Regions from separate parts of the Homo sapiens genome. Here region 1 is linked to region 2. The links come from fine-mapping of genetic effects on gene expression. Tissue or cell type: whole blood. Region 2 holds a variant in brackets; the other region holds the start of a gene. All regions are shown on one strand. Distances are between the middles of the regions.

Region 1 (8,095 bases), 160 kb after region 2:
AGGCATGAGAATCGCTTGAACCTGGGAGGCAGAGGTTGCAGTGAGCCCCAAGATCACACCACTGCACTCCAGCCTGGGCAACAGAGTGAGACTCTGTCTCAAAAAAAAAAAAAAAAAAAGAATCGTCTTGGGCCACATATAAACACATAAAATACACTAACACTAATGATAGCTAATGAGCTAAAAAAAAAAAAAAACAAAAAAATTCATACTGTTTTAAGAAAGTTTACAAATTTGTGTGGGGCCGCATTCAAAGCCGTCCCGCCGCGGGTTGGACAGGCTTGGTCTATTATGTGGCTATGATACAGCTTACTTAGCCAACTGCTTCTATATTGTCGGGGATCTACATTGTTTCTCATTTTCCCACTACAAACAGGCTGCAGTAAACATTCTTGAGTACCTTGCCCTCATTGGCTTCTGGCTTTTTGTTGAGCTCGTGTCAGAAGTGCTGTCTACAAGGATAGTGGGAGCAGAAGCAGAGGTGGGGGTGGAAGGACCAGACCCCAAGGAAGATGCCAGCAGAGACTGGGCTACTGCCCACACTTACCTGTGCTATATCAAGCAGGAAAAGCTGCAGGTAAAAGGCTGTGGCGCTGGAGGCTATCTGGTTGGGGACCCCACCAATGCCATAGCACACCTTTGTACAGAATGAGAGGCGACCGGCTCTGCTGTCCTGGAGGAGACACAGGAACTAAGCCCTTCTCCCAACAGACACAAAACAGGTCCCCACACCCCATGACTTCAGTAAACATCCTGAGTCTCTGTGATGTCTTCAGGGCTTTTCCAGCAACCTCTCAGCCCCATTTTGCCCCCATGTCATCCTAAGAGGAAGTGAGACGAAGAGAAAAAAGATCCTAAACCCTGACCTCTAAACATTTCCAGGGGGGAAGTTCTTCTGGACATCTTACCCTGGGCTTCCTGCTGAAGCCGCCATCATTTACTGAGTCAGCACGGCCGTGTAAGCTGCAGGTCAGGAGACCTGGGCTTGAGCCTGCCTTTGTCACCTACCCCTCTATGTGACCTTGAATAAATCACATCATCTCTCTAAGCCTGTTTTCCTCATCTGTCAAATGCAACATCCCTGCCAACTTCACAAAGTTGTTTCTTCGATGAGTAAATGAGGCGATAGCTCATTTACCCATAGCCTGCCTACCCACAGCCCTCCAGGGATGCCTGGCAGGCGTCTCAGCTTAGCATGGTCTACATACAGCTCCTGATGGCCATTCCATTGTCTAATCCAGCTCCTAGCAAATGGCACCGCTGGTCCCCTCAGTGGCTCAGGCCACAAACTTAGGAGTCATCTATTCTTCTTTCCAGTTCTTGTCTATCAGTGAATGCCTCCTAAGTGGCTTCTGTGTCTGCCCTTGCTCCCTACAATCCACTCCACCCAGCAGCCAGTGCTCTTGTAATAACATAAATCGCACAGTGGCTCATCCCTATAAACCCAGCACTTTGGGAGGCCGAGGTAGGTGGATTGCTTGAGCCCAGGAGTTGAAGACCAGCCTGCCCAACATGGCAAAACCCCATCTCTACTAGAAACACAAAAATTAGCCAGGCATAGTGGCCGCCTGTAATCCCAGCTACTCAGGAGGCTGAGGCAAGAGAATTGCTTGAACCAGGGAGGCAGAGGTTGCAGTGAGCAAATATCACACCACTGCACTCCAGCCTGGGTGACAGAGACTCAGTCATAAATAAATAAATAAATAATCAGATCCCATCTCCTCTCTGATTAAAACTCTCCAATGGCTTGCTATTGCAGGGTTTTTTTGTCTGTTTTTGTGTGTGTGTGTGTGTGTGTGTGTGTGTTTTGTTTGTTTGTTTGTTTGTTTCCAGATCCATGGTATTCAGTCAATACCATTGCAGTTTGAATAAAACTCCAAGTCCTGATCATGGCTAAGGAGTCCACCCAGTCGGCCCCCTACCCACCTCACCTCAAATAGCTCTCCTTCAGCCACGCCGGGCTCCTTCCTATTCCTCAAAATCATCAAGTCTGTTGCTGCCTCAGGGCCTTTGCCCTTCCCATTCCTCTGCCTGGAAGGTGACTCCTTGTCATTCTGGTTTGATGTCACCAGCTTAAATGTCACCTCCTCCAAGAGGCATTCCCTAACCTCTCACCTCTCTCAGTTGTACTTACCGCCTGCTATATTTTCATTTAGTTCCTGCCTCTCCCTACAGGAATGTAAGCTCTCTGAGAGCATGAACTCCACCTTTTATTTATCATGGTGTTTCCAGTACCTAGAACAAAGCTTGGTATACAGTAGGTGCTTAGTATATATCCGTTGAAGCAATAAATGGCCATGAAGACCCTGTGTAAAGTGCTGTTTCTTTGGAAGAAGCTGGGCTCTTTTCTCATCGTTTGCTGGGGGCTGGAGGGAGTGGAGATGACATGGCTTCACCCATTTCCACATCTTGCAGGACACCCCAGCAGGCTCTTGTGAAGGGAAGGTCTCCCCAGATAAGGGTTTATCACACTTTGCACACTCTTCCTACCCACAGGGGAAAACCACACTGGGGGCAGGATGATTCTTTTCTGACATTTGTGTGAACATCATTTCAGCTTCCAGAAAACTTTAAGAACAGGCAGAATTCAACGTGACAGTCCCCCTCTCCCCCTAATGGGGACTCTTGTATCCCCCAAAACAGGCCTAGCAAGTTTTTAGAACTTTAGAAAGAACTTCCAAGTGAAGCCAGGGATATGATCCCATCTTGCCGTCTTGAGGATGACAGTTTTACCGAAAGTCATAAAAGCCCGGTACAGCTGTACAGTGAGCTGTACAAGGAGAAGCCCCTTGGGAGGGGCGGCTCCGGGCGAGGGGCGCAGCCCTGCTATCTCTAGCTGCGTGACCCAGGGCAGGGCACCTCGGTCTCCTTGGAGTGACCGGGGCTGCCACCCCTCGGAGAGTCGTAAGAGGATTCCACGCCGGAACTTCATCAGCAATGCGAGTGTTTCCCTCTTGCTGTTAATCTCACCCTGAATTTCTAAGTTTCCCTGGGAAGTGAGAGTCCCCGGAGAGCCCCTTCATCTCACCTCACTTTCTTGTGGGATGCAATCCTGTGCTCCCAGGTGCCTCGTAGGAAGCCCTGAACAGGCTGGGGGCTGAGGTGGTCAGGGGAGGCCACAGAATGCCCTGGGCACGAGCAGGGAGCAGGCGCGTTCAGTGAGGCCCAGGAAGCCCCAGGCCCCTTGCTCCGTCCAGCACAGCCCCACTGGCCAGCACGGCCCGGCGGCATCGGGCAAGGGACAAGGGGCCCCGAAGACCCCGCCGCTCCCACCTGCCCTCCTCCCTTCTTGTCGGAGCCCATGGCCAGGACCTTCCCTGAGGCTGCCTCCAAGGGGAGCCTGGTGCCTGGGCGAGGCCAGGGTCTGGGAGGGAGGCCGAGGCCACAGCAGCTGCCTGAGGTCGGGAAGGACGCAGCCTCCCCAGGCGCTTCAGAAAGCCCTGCCTGCCCAGAGCTCGGGGACCCCGGGAGGACCTGCGGTGGCACGGACAAGACCCCTAAGCCGGGAATCAGGACAGCAATGACCACGCATCCCCAAGTTACTTCCTTGGCTAGGGCTAGGCTTCCCGTCCTAGTCTCTTTCCGGCGCCGGCACCTACCAGCCTCCCCGCTCCCAGCCGTGTAACCCCGCGAGGGCAGCCCCTGAGCTGGCAGGTTTGGGCCGAGCCCCTCCGGGCTGCCCCCAGCTGGAAAAGGGGCTGCGAGGCGACGCCCTGGAGCTCCCCGAGGACGCAGCCCCTTCCCGGTCCCCGCCGCCCCGCTCACCTCTCGCCCTCGCTTGGCGCTCCCCGGGCCGGGCTCTGGGGCGTGCGGCTCCGGCTGCGGGGACCCCTTGGCGGCTGGTGCAGGGGGCGCCGCCATTGCCACCGCAGCGCCGCCCGCGGCCGTTGCCCTCGGGGTTATCGCCCTTGGGAGGGGCGGTTCTGGGCTAGGGGCGCGGCGCGAGTGGCTGCTGGCAACGCGGGGGAAACGCAGAAACCGCGAAGGGCACCCCAAAGGGAAACAGCGAAGAACCAAAATCCGCGGGGGGAAAGGCCCGGCAGGCCCTCAGGACCGTTCTCCTTGGGGTGGATCCCCGGGGGCGTGAGCGCCCGCAGACGGCGGCCCTGCGCGCTAAGGGCTCCGCCAGACCGCTGGGGTGACCGCGGGCAAGCAGCAGCTCCCCTGCAAAATGAAGCAAGAGGCCCGCTCGTTCAGGCTGGACCATGGCTGAACAGGCATTCCGCCGGCTACACATGATGCCCAACGCCTGAAATATACATTGTCGAGTCTCCTATACAGACCACGGGGATGGCCAGTAACTAAGTTCTGGCCAGCGAATAAAAGCAGGTGGCACAGGCCAACATTCCAGAAAAGTCCTTAAAAGGGAAGGGGGGTGACAGCAGGTAGCTAGTCAGCCTCGAAAAGGGCAGGAGAGGGCCACGCTTCCAACCAGGTACGTCAGGCAACCATCAGGCGACAGTCAGGCGGTTGTTATGCTCCCTCTAAAATGATCATTGATCCAGCGGGGCCAGGGAAAGGCAGTCTCCCAATAGATAGAGAAAACCTGAAACTGGTGATCAGCTTCTCGGTAAGATCTCAGGAGCTGGGCAAGTGGGCTTACACAAATTGCGGAGTTTAACTGACATGTGACCCTCGAAGGACACCGGACTGGTAAGGGAAGAACGCCTCCAGTGAGCATGGGTACAACTCCAGTATACACAGTGTGCACACTCCCCTCCCAAGTGCTGGCAGACCACTGCCCATGCAGGCAGGCCTCCCAAGGGAAGAATCAGGGGAGAAGGGATGCAAGACCCCAGAAGTATGCCAATGCATAAGACCCCAGGTCAAAAGGTCAAACTGTGCGCTTCTTTTTCAGGTCACCCGCTTGGCCCTCTTCCAAGTGTACTTTCCTTCCTTCCATTTCTGCTGTAGAGCTTTTTAATAAACTTTTATTCCTGCTCTAAAACTTGCCTCAGTCTCTCCTTCTGCCTTATGCCCCTCAGTGGAATTCTTTCTTCTGAGGAGGCAGGAACTGAGGTTGCTGCAGACCCATATAGATTCACTCCTGCTGACATATTTTGGTGCCACGTGACTCAGATACCTTCCACCAGTAACAGGGGTACACATTAACTAAAAATGCATCATAGACCTAGAATGTAAAACTTATGAAAAAACAGGAGCAAGGGACAGGCACGGTGGCTCATGCCTGTAATCCCAGCTACTCGGCAGGCTGAGGCAGGAGAATCGCTTGAACCCGGGAGGCGGAGATTGCAGTGAGCCAAGATCGTGCCACTGCATTCCAGCCTGGGTGACAGAGGGAGACTCTGTCTCAAAAACAAAAACAAAAACAAAACCAACCAAACACAAAAAACCCAGAAGCAACTCTTCATCATATTGGGCCAGGCAATTGTTTCTTAGGACGCCAAAAGCACAAGCTGGATGAACTACAAAAGTTTTCAAAATGAAAACCTTTGTGCTGTAAACGATTCCAACAAGTGGGTATAAAGACAACCCACAGAATGGGAGAAAAGGGATTTGTATTGGAATCAACTTTCACAACTCAACAATTAAAAGACAATCCAATTCTAAAATGGGCAAAGAATTTGGATATTTCTCTAAAGATATACAAATGAACAGTAAGCACATGGAAATACAAATCGAAACTACAGTGAGACACCATTTCATATCCACAGGGTGGCTGTAATTAAAATGAGACAAGTATTGGGGAGGATGTGGAGAAATCAGAACCCCTATACACTGCTAGTGGGAATGGAAACTAGTGACAGTCCTTTGGAAAAGTTTGGCAGTTTCTCAAAGTAAAACGTGGAATTACCACATGACCCGCAATTCCACTCTTAGGTGTATACACCCTACAGAAATGAAAACATGTTCACATAAAATCTTGAACATGAATGTTCATTAGCAGCATTCATATATATATACATATATATATAATGTGTGTGTGTATATATATATGCCAAAGAGGACACAAGCCAATGTCCATCAGGTTATGAATGAATAAATATAATGTGGTATATCCATACAATGGACTACTGTTGGGCAAGAAAAAGGAATGAAGGACCAATGCATGCTACAACACAGATGAACCTTGATGACAGTATGCTAAGTAAAAGAAGCCAGTCACAAGACTACAAATTGTATTATTCCATTTATGTCAAATGTCTAGAATAGGCAAATAGAGAGTGACAGAATGTACATTTGTAGTTGCTTGGGACTGGGCTAGGGAGTTACTGCTAAGGCATGTGAGGTTTTAGAATGGACAAACATTTTCTAAAGTTAAATTGTGATGGTTGCACAACCCTATAAATACACTAAAAACCATTGAATTGTATACTTTATTTTTATTTATTTATTTTTTTGAGACAGAGTCTTGTTGCCCAGGCTGGAATGCCGGGGCACGATCTCGGCTCACTGCAACCCCCACCTCCCGGGTTCAAGTGATTCTCCTGTTTCAGCCTCCCGAGTAGCTGGGATTACAGGCATGTGCCACCACTCCCGGCTAATTTTTGTATTTGTAGTAGAGATGTGCTTTCACCATGTTGGCCAGGCTGGTCTTGAACTCCTGATCCTCAGGTGATCCACCTCGGCCTCCCAAAGTGCTGGGATTACAGTGAGCCATCGGCCTAGCCTGAATTGTATACTTTAAATGGGTGAATTGCACAGCATGTGAATTACATCTCAATAAAGCTGTTTAAAAGGAAAGATATCTGCTTCTTCCTATTGGCTGAAATACAAATGTGTCGGCTGGTGCTAGTGCAGCTACCCTGAGACCCCAAGTCTACAGAGTGATGAGATTGGCAGATCAACAGTACAGGAATCTGATGATTTTATGAGGTTGATCTACCAGCCCTGAACTGCTTCCCTCTGGACTTTTGCATGGGAAATAAAATTTGACCTTGTAAGCAACTATTATTCTGGATTTTCTGTCACAGCTAAATCTAATCCTAAAGGATACACTACCCAGTTTAGAGCAAGTCATTCCATTTTATATGTCTTAATTCCTTAATCTACAAAATGGGTACATTTTGTTTCCCTGATTGCAAATACAAGGATAGATTAGATAATGCATGTGCTAAATATTTAATTCCTTGGAAATTAAATATAAACTAAAGCCAAAGTTTCTTTAGATAATCTACTTTTACAATTTGTGGGTTTTTTTTTTTTTTCCTTTCTGTGGAGAATAGGATCTTGCTATGTTTCTCCGACTGGTCTCGAACTCTTGGGCTCAAGCTTTATTCCTGCCTCTGCCTCCCTAAGTGTTGGGATTACAGGCGTGAGCCACTGTGTTCAGCTAGATAATCAATCTACTTTCAAGTACATCCTACTGATACGCATTTTTAAAAGGTTTGGAAATATTGCATTCTCAACACTTGTACTTTGTTGTTTATACTACTGCAATTTTAAGTTTGAAAGGCAGCAGGTAAAAACAATTTTAAAAATTAAAAAATGACTGGGCACAGTGGCTTACACCTGTAATCCCAGCACTTTGGGAAGCTGAGGTGGGTGGATCACCTGAGGTCAGGAGTTCAAGACCAGCCTGACCAACATGGCGAAACCCCGTCTCTACTAAAAAAACATAAAATTAGTCAAGCGTGGTGGCGGGCTCCTGTAATCCCAGCTACTTGGGAGGCTGAGGCAGGAGAATCGCTTGAACCTGGGAGGTGGAGGTTGCAGTGAGCTGAGATCGCACCATTGCACTCCAGCCTGGGCAACAAGAGTGAAACTCCATCTCAAAAAAAAAAAAAAAATTAAACAATAACTCTTTTGGACAGCAAAAAATGTAATTATAATAAAAGTCATTTCCCTAACAGTCAGTATTCTATTTAAAGTGATGGTAAGTTCATAATGTAATTTTTAATGCAAAAGACAAATTAGATTTCAATAAAGTAGGATTAAATAACAAAGGCAGCTGCCTTTTAATTAAAACAAGACTAAAAGCTGATATACTAAAAAATATCTGAAAGGATGCACATCAAAATGTTACTAGTAGTTTTTAATTTCTAATTTTTATTTTTTACTTTTTTCTTTTTCTTTTTTTCAAGACAGAATCTTGCTCTGTCGCTCAGGCTGGAGTGCAGCCACATGATCTCGG
Region 2 (8,104 bases):
CCATATTTGCTCATTGAAGCAGTTTTCTCATAGCAACTTTAAAAGTCTGTGAGCTTATTCTAACATCTTTGTCATCTCAGTGCTGGTCTCTATTGAAGTCTGAACATTTTCAGTTTATATTATGAGACTCTGGATCTTATTTAAACTTTCTGTTTTAGCTGGCTTTCTCCAACACCAATCTAACAGGGTTAATGAGGTTACCACCTCATTACTGCCAGATGGAGATAGGAATCCAGGTGCCCCAGTTGGCCTTCATTGACACTTGAGGGGCCAAAGTTCCTCATTACTGCTGTGTAGACCATGATTTAGAGATTCTAGTCAGGCTAACTGAGAGACCATTCAGCAAATTACTTCCTTATATGGTATAATCTTCTCGAGAAAAGGAGCTGAATCTATCTCATCTTTACATCTTTCTCATAACATGGGACCATCTATGACTGACCCAAATAGCAGGCGAACAGAAAATTCCTGTTGAGTAGACGACATACACAGAAAAGTATAATATACTGATGGCTTAAACTACATTAAGTATAAGCAAAAGGTGATACAAAATAGGATTTTTAATTTCTACCTAGCTTCTTCCTTACTTCATTTGAAAATAAAAGTTTCCCTGATTTACTGAATCAACTTATTTCAATCTCATATGATTTAAAAGCTTACCTGAGCATTTGTCTCTTTACTTGATGTTCCCTGGCAATGTCGCCTTTTTTACATGGTGAAAATAACTGTTAAGGATTTGAAAGATTCTCCTTTCAATAGGTAGTGCTTCACTGAGTCTTCACCTAGGCTCTTGCTGCAGGCTCTGTGTCTCTTTCTACATACCACAACTAAGTCAGTTAATCTCATAGTATTAAAATCTTTTGTTACTGTTTCTCCCACTAACTTTAGGGCAGAGAGCCTATGTTGGCTCATCCTTATATCCCCAGAACCTGGCAGAGCACCTGGGAAAAACAGGCACTTAAATACTTACTAAGTGAATGATGAATAAATAAATGAATGAGACATAATCCCAACATCTACACAAAATGAAATTTCAATGTCAACATATGAAAAAAACATTTAAGAGACTGAAGACTTGTCTACCAGGAGAGCATCAAGCCTTTTGAAGCTTTGCAGTCGGCCTCTGGTTGCCATTTTGGCATAGCTAGTATTTTTAGTCATTTATAACTGTAATAGAGAAAAGCATTTCTATCCAAAAAGTCTCTTTAAATCAAAAAGTCTAGGCCAGTCATGGTGGCTCATGCATGTAATCCCAGCACTTTGGGAGGCCGAGGTAGGAGGATCGCTTGAGGCCAGGTGTTCAAGACCAGCCTGGGCAACACAATGGGACCGCGTCTCTACAAAACGTTTAAAAATTAGCTGGGCATGGTGGCAGGCACCTGTAGTCCCAGCTACTCAGGAAGCTGAGGTGGGAGGATCACTTGAGTCCGGGAGGTTGAGGCTGAAGCAAGCCATGCTTGTATCCACTCCAGCTGGGAGACAGAACAAGACCTTGTCCCAGAAAACAAAACAAAAGTCTCAATGTTTGTGAAGTGTACATGTTAACCTTAACCATAAGAACAAATTTGCACCTAGATTTTTATTTTAAAAGTATGATATAGATTTAGGCTACCTGTTATAAAGAAAACTTAAGAAATTTCTAAATTTACTTGAACGAAGGAAAGGCTATGGAGAAGGCAGTAATGACTGATTCATGGAACAGAACTGATTTACCGAGACTTTTCTCCTTCTATAAAAAGTCAAGGTGAAGTAACAATATCCCTTTAATGCTGATGTGATTTCTAGAAGTCTGTTTTGACTGATGAAGTAATATAAAAGGGAAAAAATGCCAAGAACTAGAGTATTATAAAATCCTTCAGGGTCTCCCCATAAATTCCAAACGCTTTAGCATGACCTGTAAGATTCCTGCCTGTCTTTTTGGGCTCAGCTTTCTTCAGTGATTCCTGGCCTCCTTGCTCCACATGGTGGATTAGAGATGCCTGCGTGGTCCCATCTCTGGCAAATCCCTGACTCCACTCACAGAGGTAGACTTTTTTTTTTTTTTTTTGAGATGGCGTCTCTTGCTCTATTGCCCAGGCTGGAGTGCAGTGGCGCAATCTTGGCTTACTGCAGCCTCCCCGTCCTGGGTTCAAGCGATTCTCCCGCCTCAGCTTTTCTGAGTAGCTAGGCTTGCAGGTGCCCCCCTACCATGCCCAGCTAATTTTTGTATTTTTAGTAGAGATGGGCTTTTGCCATTTTGGTCAGGCTGGTCTCAAACTCCTAACCTCAGGTGATCCACCCTCCTCGGCCTCCCAAAGTGCTGGGATTACAGGCGTGAGCCACTTCACCTGGCCAGAGGTGGACTCGATGGCAGCACCTCCCTGTTCTTCTCTGTGGCTAATTGGTCAAGGAGTGTACACCTGACCCAAGTCTAGGATCAGATTCTCCTGTCTTTCTTCTAGGATTATAGACGTCTAACCAAAACAGAGACTTGGAAAGGTGTTGTGAGTCACGTTCATGACAACAGCCTAGAAGGGTCTGAGATGCCTGCTGCTCAGGGGCCAGTGCTGTCAAGGTTCCTGCCATTCCTGTGGAATTCAGTTTTTTCTCAGGGTTCTGTAAGATGCTTTGGCACTCTTTCAATGAAATTTTTTTTTTTAATCCCAACCACTAGACCACCAGGGACCATTTGTGCTTATGTTAGCTCTGGTTAGCTTGTTACTTGCAATACAAATGATCTCAAATAATACAGAAATAGTACAAGGCTTCAGAGGAAATGTGAGATATTTGGAATTGGTATTCGTGTCAAAGTGCAGGGAAAGGAAAGGCATCTTCTCTTCACCATGTGGAATGAGCAACTATATTTGTGATACGACATCTGGGATTTGCTTCAAAGTCATCCAGTTAGGGTTGAGAAGTAGGTATGCATATACACAAAACAAGACTGGACATGAGGTAATCAGTATTGAAGCTGGATGTCAGAAACATAAGGATTCATTATACAATTATAATTATTTTTTCTGTAATTCTCTGAAATTGTGCATAGTATAAAGTTTTAAAAATCTAGTTTTCAGCCAGGTGCAGTGGCTCATGCTTGTAATCCCAGCACTTTGGGAGGCTGAGGCGGGTGGATCGCTTGAGCCCAGGAGTTCAAGATCAGCCTGGGCAACATGGTGAGACCTCATCTCTACAAAAAATACAAAAAATTAGCCAGGCATGATGGCGTACACCTGTAGTCGTAGCTACTCGGGAGGCTGAAAGGCGGAGAATTGCTTGAACCTGGGAGGTCCAGCCTGCAGTGAGCCATGATCATGCCACTGCACTCCAGCCTGGGCAACAGAACGAGACCCTGTTTCAAAAAAAAAAAAAAAGAAAGAAAGAAAGAAAATCTAGTTTCACTTAGAACCATATATTGATTAGGGGTGAGATGTTGGGAGACTAGATAACTGTCAGGGTAGAATAATTTAAAGAGGATGAGGAATATGGAATGAGAGAAAAATGGATAATTTAAAGCAAGATAATATAAAGCTCAGATGCCAGAATGTGCAAGGCATTAAAATATAGGGCCACTATTTTTAATAAATCTTATTCCATCTGTGGCCCTCAAGTTCATAAATTGATCCTGTAGGTTGCTGAATTGCAATTCCAGATGGATTAACATTGCTGCCAGTCTTTTATATGAAATCTAGGGCATTGACTAGGAAAGAGGGGGATCTTGGAATTATATATATTTGGGGAACAGACAGAACTGAAGAAGTCAGACTCCCCCAAGTCTTTTGAAAAGGTTACCATGGTGTCCCTTTGCCTAAGGAAAACAGAATTCCACTCTTCTATGCTCTGTGTCCTACTGTGTCTTCCTGTGACCAAGATTCAAACTCAACATGAGCCAGAGGGCAATGTTTAGAATCAGCAAGTGAGTAATTATACCCTAAATGAATTTTTTTTTTTTTAAGATGGAGTCTTGCCCTGTCACCCAGGCTAGAGTGCAGTGGTGCAATCTCGGCTCACTACAGCCTCCACCTCCAGGGTTCAAGCAATTCTCATGCCTCAGCCTCCCAAGTAGCTGGGATTACAGGTATGTGCCATCACACCTGGCTAATTTTTGTATTTTTAGTGGAGACAGGGTTTTGCCACGTTGGCCAGGTTGGTCTCGAACTCCTGACCTCAAGACAGGTGTTCAGATGGAGGCCGAGGCGGGTGGATCGCTTGAGCCCAGGAGTTCGAGATCAGCCTGGGCAACATGCCTCAGCCTCCCCAAAGTGCTGGGATTACAGGCATGACCCACCTCACCTGGCCAACCCCAAATGAATTTTTAAATTTTCTAAAGAATGTTGGGAAAACCTGGGGAGGATATGTGGATGTGGCCATGAAGTGTGCATGACCAAAGGGAGCATACCTTAATTGAGGAACAAGCCAAATATACAGAGATGGACACTTAGTGAGGGAGCTGTAATTATTTTTATTGGTTCGTTCAGCAATATTTCTTAACTTCTGGGGAAAATACATGGTATTGCCATTTCTTAATTATCACAGACACTGAACTCAAAAATTAAAGGAAGTTCGTTGCAGATGCTTTTTTTTTAGAGACAGGACAATTCTTGAGTGCCGTCCTTGGCCTTCACCCTGATTCCTGTGAGCAGATGACTTCCTCTGAAGCAGCCTGATTTTGTGTATCCTTTCACCAATCAAGGATCAGGGTGTGTGCTCCTTGGTTGCTGAAACCTTTTGAAGGTGACAAAAGGGAAGAGTTGAGTGTGGTATGGGGATGAGGGGCTTACGAGAGCAGAAAGCGTTCCCCAGCTAAGCTGAGCTGATCCCCCTGAAGCCTGTCCTGCCAGAGCCGAGTGACTCATCTCTCAGGCAGGGTCTCCACCTAGGCCTCCTGCCTCAGCCTTTCCTC[G/A]CGCTGTCTGGAGTCAGAAGCACTGAGAGATTCAGGGACATGGTCAAATAGATGGGGTGGATCACTGATGTGTGACATGATTTGAGGGAACCCCTGTGGTCTCAGCTTTCAGATGTCAACATGTTTGGAGTACTAATTTCCACTTGGATTGTTGTGATTTAGAAAATACTAGGTTCCTTTCTTCCCTTTTCTCTTCAAACCTCTAAATTCTCTATTCTGTGCCTCGCGATCAGCTGATGATCTCACTTGAGAAAATGAGTAAACAGAAGGAAACAATCTTCCTTTGCAAAATCCACTGAGCTAGTTTGACCTATATCCATGTACTCAGCCTTCCCTCTTCATACAATGGATAGAGTGTCCTGTCCACCTGAGTCCAGGGTGCTGCCTCCTCACCTGTGGAAGGACTCTGCCCTTCTATTATACCCCCTCTCTCTCCAGCATCATCAAATCTCCCTCTCTATGGGAGCATTCCCATCAGGAAACATACATGTTATAATATCAATATCGCTGATAAAAATATTCCCTTACCTTACCTTCTCCAGCCACTTTATAGCAAAACCCCACAAAAGCATTGCTTATTCTGTCTCCACTTCCTCACCCCAATTCTCTCCTGAACCCACTCTAATCAGCTTTCATTTCAGCTGCTCCACTTAACCTCTCTGATGAAAATCAGCAGTTAGGCCTATATCTCCCCAGTCCTCATTTTACCTCCCTCTCAGCAGCATTGCCACATGGCTGGGCATGCCCTCTTTTCTGAAACCCTTTCTCTACTGGGCCTCTGCAGCAGCACATACTTCTGCTTTGCTTCCTTCCATACCAACCTCTCGCTCCATGAATGTTCCTTCACCAGCTCTGCCTCCTTGCCCCAACCTCTAAATCTTGGCGTTCCGCAGGACTAACCCTCGGCCTTCTTCTCTTTGACACTCACCCCCAGGTGATTGCATGATTTCACATAGCATCTATATGAGGATGACTCTCAAAAACCTGTCTCCACCCCCAGTCTCCCCTGAACTCCAGACCGGTACATCCACCTGCCTACTGTATATCTCCTCTTGGGTATAGGATGAGCATCTACAAAGATACTGAAATGGATCTAATTTTAGTCTCAGTATCTCTTTAGGTGATAGAGGCTATGTTCCTAAGTGAAGAATGAAGTAGTGGCAGTTCCATCAGATGCTTAGAGCCAGAGACAGTCCTAAGCAAACACCTGGAAAAGAAATCCGGTGAGAAATTCCAAGCAATAGGAATTTTCTCTGAAGATCACTTGGAAGTGCCCCATGAGAAAAACCACTAGCTTCAAACCCCTGCCAAGCCCAGAGAATGCCTTACACTGAAATAGATCATCATAAAATTAATAGGTAAGAACTTTCCTACCCACCCATTATTTCTCTTTCCTCCCTCCCACTGTGGACTCTGAAGATATCAGAAATCACAGTGGCAAGAAACAGGGGTAAGGAATAGGAGAGTAAGAAGGGAAAGAGAGAAGACATCTACCTCCCTCTTCTTTCTTATAGCTCCAGCTTCAGCAGCCCCAAACGCGGGGAGGGAGACCTTAAATGAAGATTGAAGCTTTGGTCATTATGTTATACGAGACTGGCCATATTAGTTACTGAACAGACTGTCTTCATAACCAGAGGCTGTTTATTATCTGAGAATGCCCAGGGCAGGAGAAGAACCAACCCCAACAGAACAGGTTTAAATGGACAGTGAGGGGAAGAGTTCATTTGCTCTAAAATCACACCCTACAAATCCTCCTCCGGTATTATAATGATTGCAATGGAATCAGCCCCAAACACGGTTATTCCTCACTTCTGCACTTCTCTCCCTGCAAACCTGCTTTCCCCCTAGACCTCCCTAGGTCAGTGACTAGAACCACAATCCACCCAGGCCCCTCCGCACTGATTTCTCGCTTTCACCCACTTCCACGCTAACAAGGGAGCTCTGCCAGCTCCTCTCCACCCACGCTGGAGCCTGGAGCCCTCGCTCTCACCTGGCCTGGAACCCTCAACTGCCTTGACGGCCCTGCCTCGGCTCCAGCATCAGCAGTTGCTTATGCGGCAGCCATGTTCTTTGTACAATGCTGATTAGATATGATTTCCCCCCTACTCCAGACCTCCGCACAGCTTCCCCTCACACTTTGAATTTTATTCTAACTCCCTTTCCCGGCCTGTAACCCCAACCTGCCTGGCTCCTGCCTCTGCTCCAGCCTCACCTCCCGCCCTCTCTCAGCACTCACTATCTTCAGCCTCCCCACTTTTTCTTGCTGTTTCCTGAACACACCAGCCTCACTCCCATCTCAGGCTTTTGCCTGGGCCCATCCATCTGCGCAACACTCTTTCCCCAGATCTCTCCACGCCTCACTCCCTGGGTTCCTCAGCCTGCTGCACAAACGTCATCTCAGAGGAGAAGCCTCCTCTGACTTCTCCACCTAAAACAGTCCTCTTCATTCGTCCCCCACTCTCCCACCCCACCCCCTCTACCTGCTTTGTTTTCCTTATTACTAACTCACGTGATGTTATGTGTTTATTTGGTTGACTACTGTCTATTTCCCCATCAAAATGTAAGCTCCAGGAAATCGGAGCCGTCTCTGTTTTGTTTCCCACTGTGTCTCCAGCCCCTCAAACACTGCCTGGCTCAGAGTTGGCGCTTGTTAAAATTTTGAGGAAGCAAGCAAGCAAGCACATGGGAGGATACCAAAACATGGCAGTAAAAGGAGCTAAACACACAAAAGAAAAGGTTAGTAAATTTTCATGAATGAGTAAAAAAAGTAGCACCCCTGTCCTTTAAGGGTAGGAGTGGGGAAATGGAGAGACAGTCAGAAAGGAAGATGGCAAGATTGAAGGATACTCAGAAGACAGGCCATTCACGTGCTGATTTCTAACTGGGAGTGGGGAGGAAGGCCATGACTTCTCGAATACACTCCTAAGAGGCTGACTCTGGACAAGAGAACTGGAGGGAGAAGCTCCACCTAGACCCAGAAATGGTAGGCTGGGCTATCTCAGTCAAATGGCCACCAAGTTTAACCATCATTACCTTAGGATGAGAAATCTATGTTCTGTAAACACCTATATCTATCTATCTATCTATATATATGTGAATACATACATATATATATATATATATTTTTTTTTTTTTTAGACAGAGTTCTGCTCTTGTTGCCCAAGCTGGAGTGCAGTGGCGTGATCTCAGCTCACCGCAACCTCCGCCTTCCAGATTCAAGCGATT

Evidence for each region. PIP is the estimated chance that this variant, and not a neighbour inherited with it, causes the effect.
Region 1: MFSD2B starts here. The variant in region 2 is fine-mapped to the expression of MFSD2B in whole blood (INTERVAL, PIP above 0.99).

The regions. Positions count from the first base shown.
Region 1 is chr2:24,005,863-24,013,957 of GRCh38, reverse strand. It overlaps MFSD2B (MFSD2 lysolipid transporter B, sphingolipid), which reads right to left and starts at 3,873. Exons shown (of 14, transcript NM_001346880.2): 1 at 3,766-3,873; 2 at 548-673. The coding sequence starts at 3,861.
Region 2 is chr2:24,165,953-24,174,056 of GRCh38, reverse strand. It overlaps FAM228B (family with sequence similarity 228 member B), which reads right to left. Exons shown (of 11, transcript NM_001145710.2): 10 at 6,374-6,430; 11 at 4,419-4,701. The coding sequence ends at 6,388. It overlaps LOC105374328 (a long non-coding RNA gene), which reads left to right. Exons shown (of 4, transcript XR_939833.4): 2 at 6,000-6,237; 3 at 7,494-7,615; 4 at 8,018-8,057. Among named protein-coding and RNA genes, the nearest start is that of FAM228A, 5.0 kb to the left of the region's middle. The variant G/A (reference allele first, on the strand shown) is at 4,880.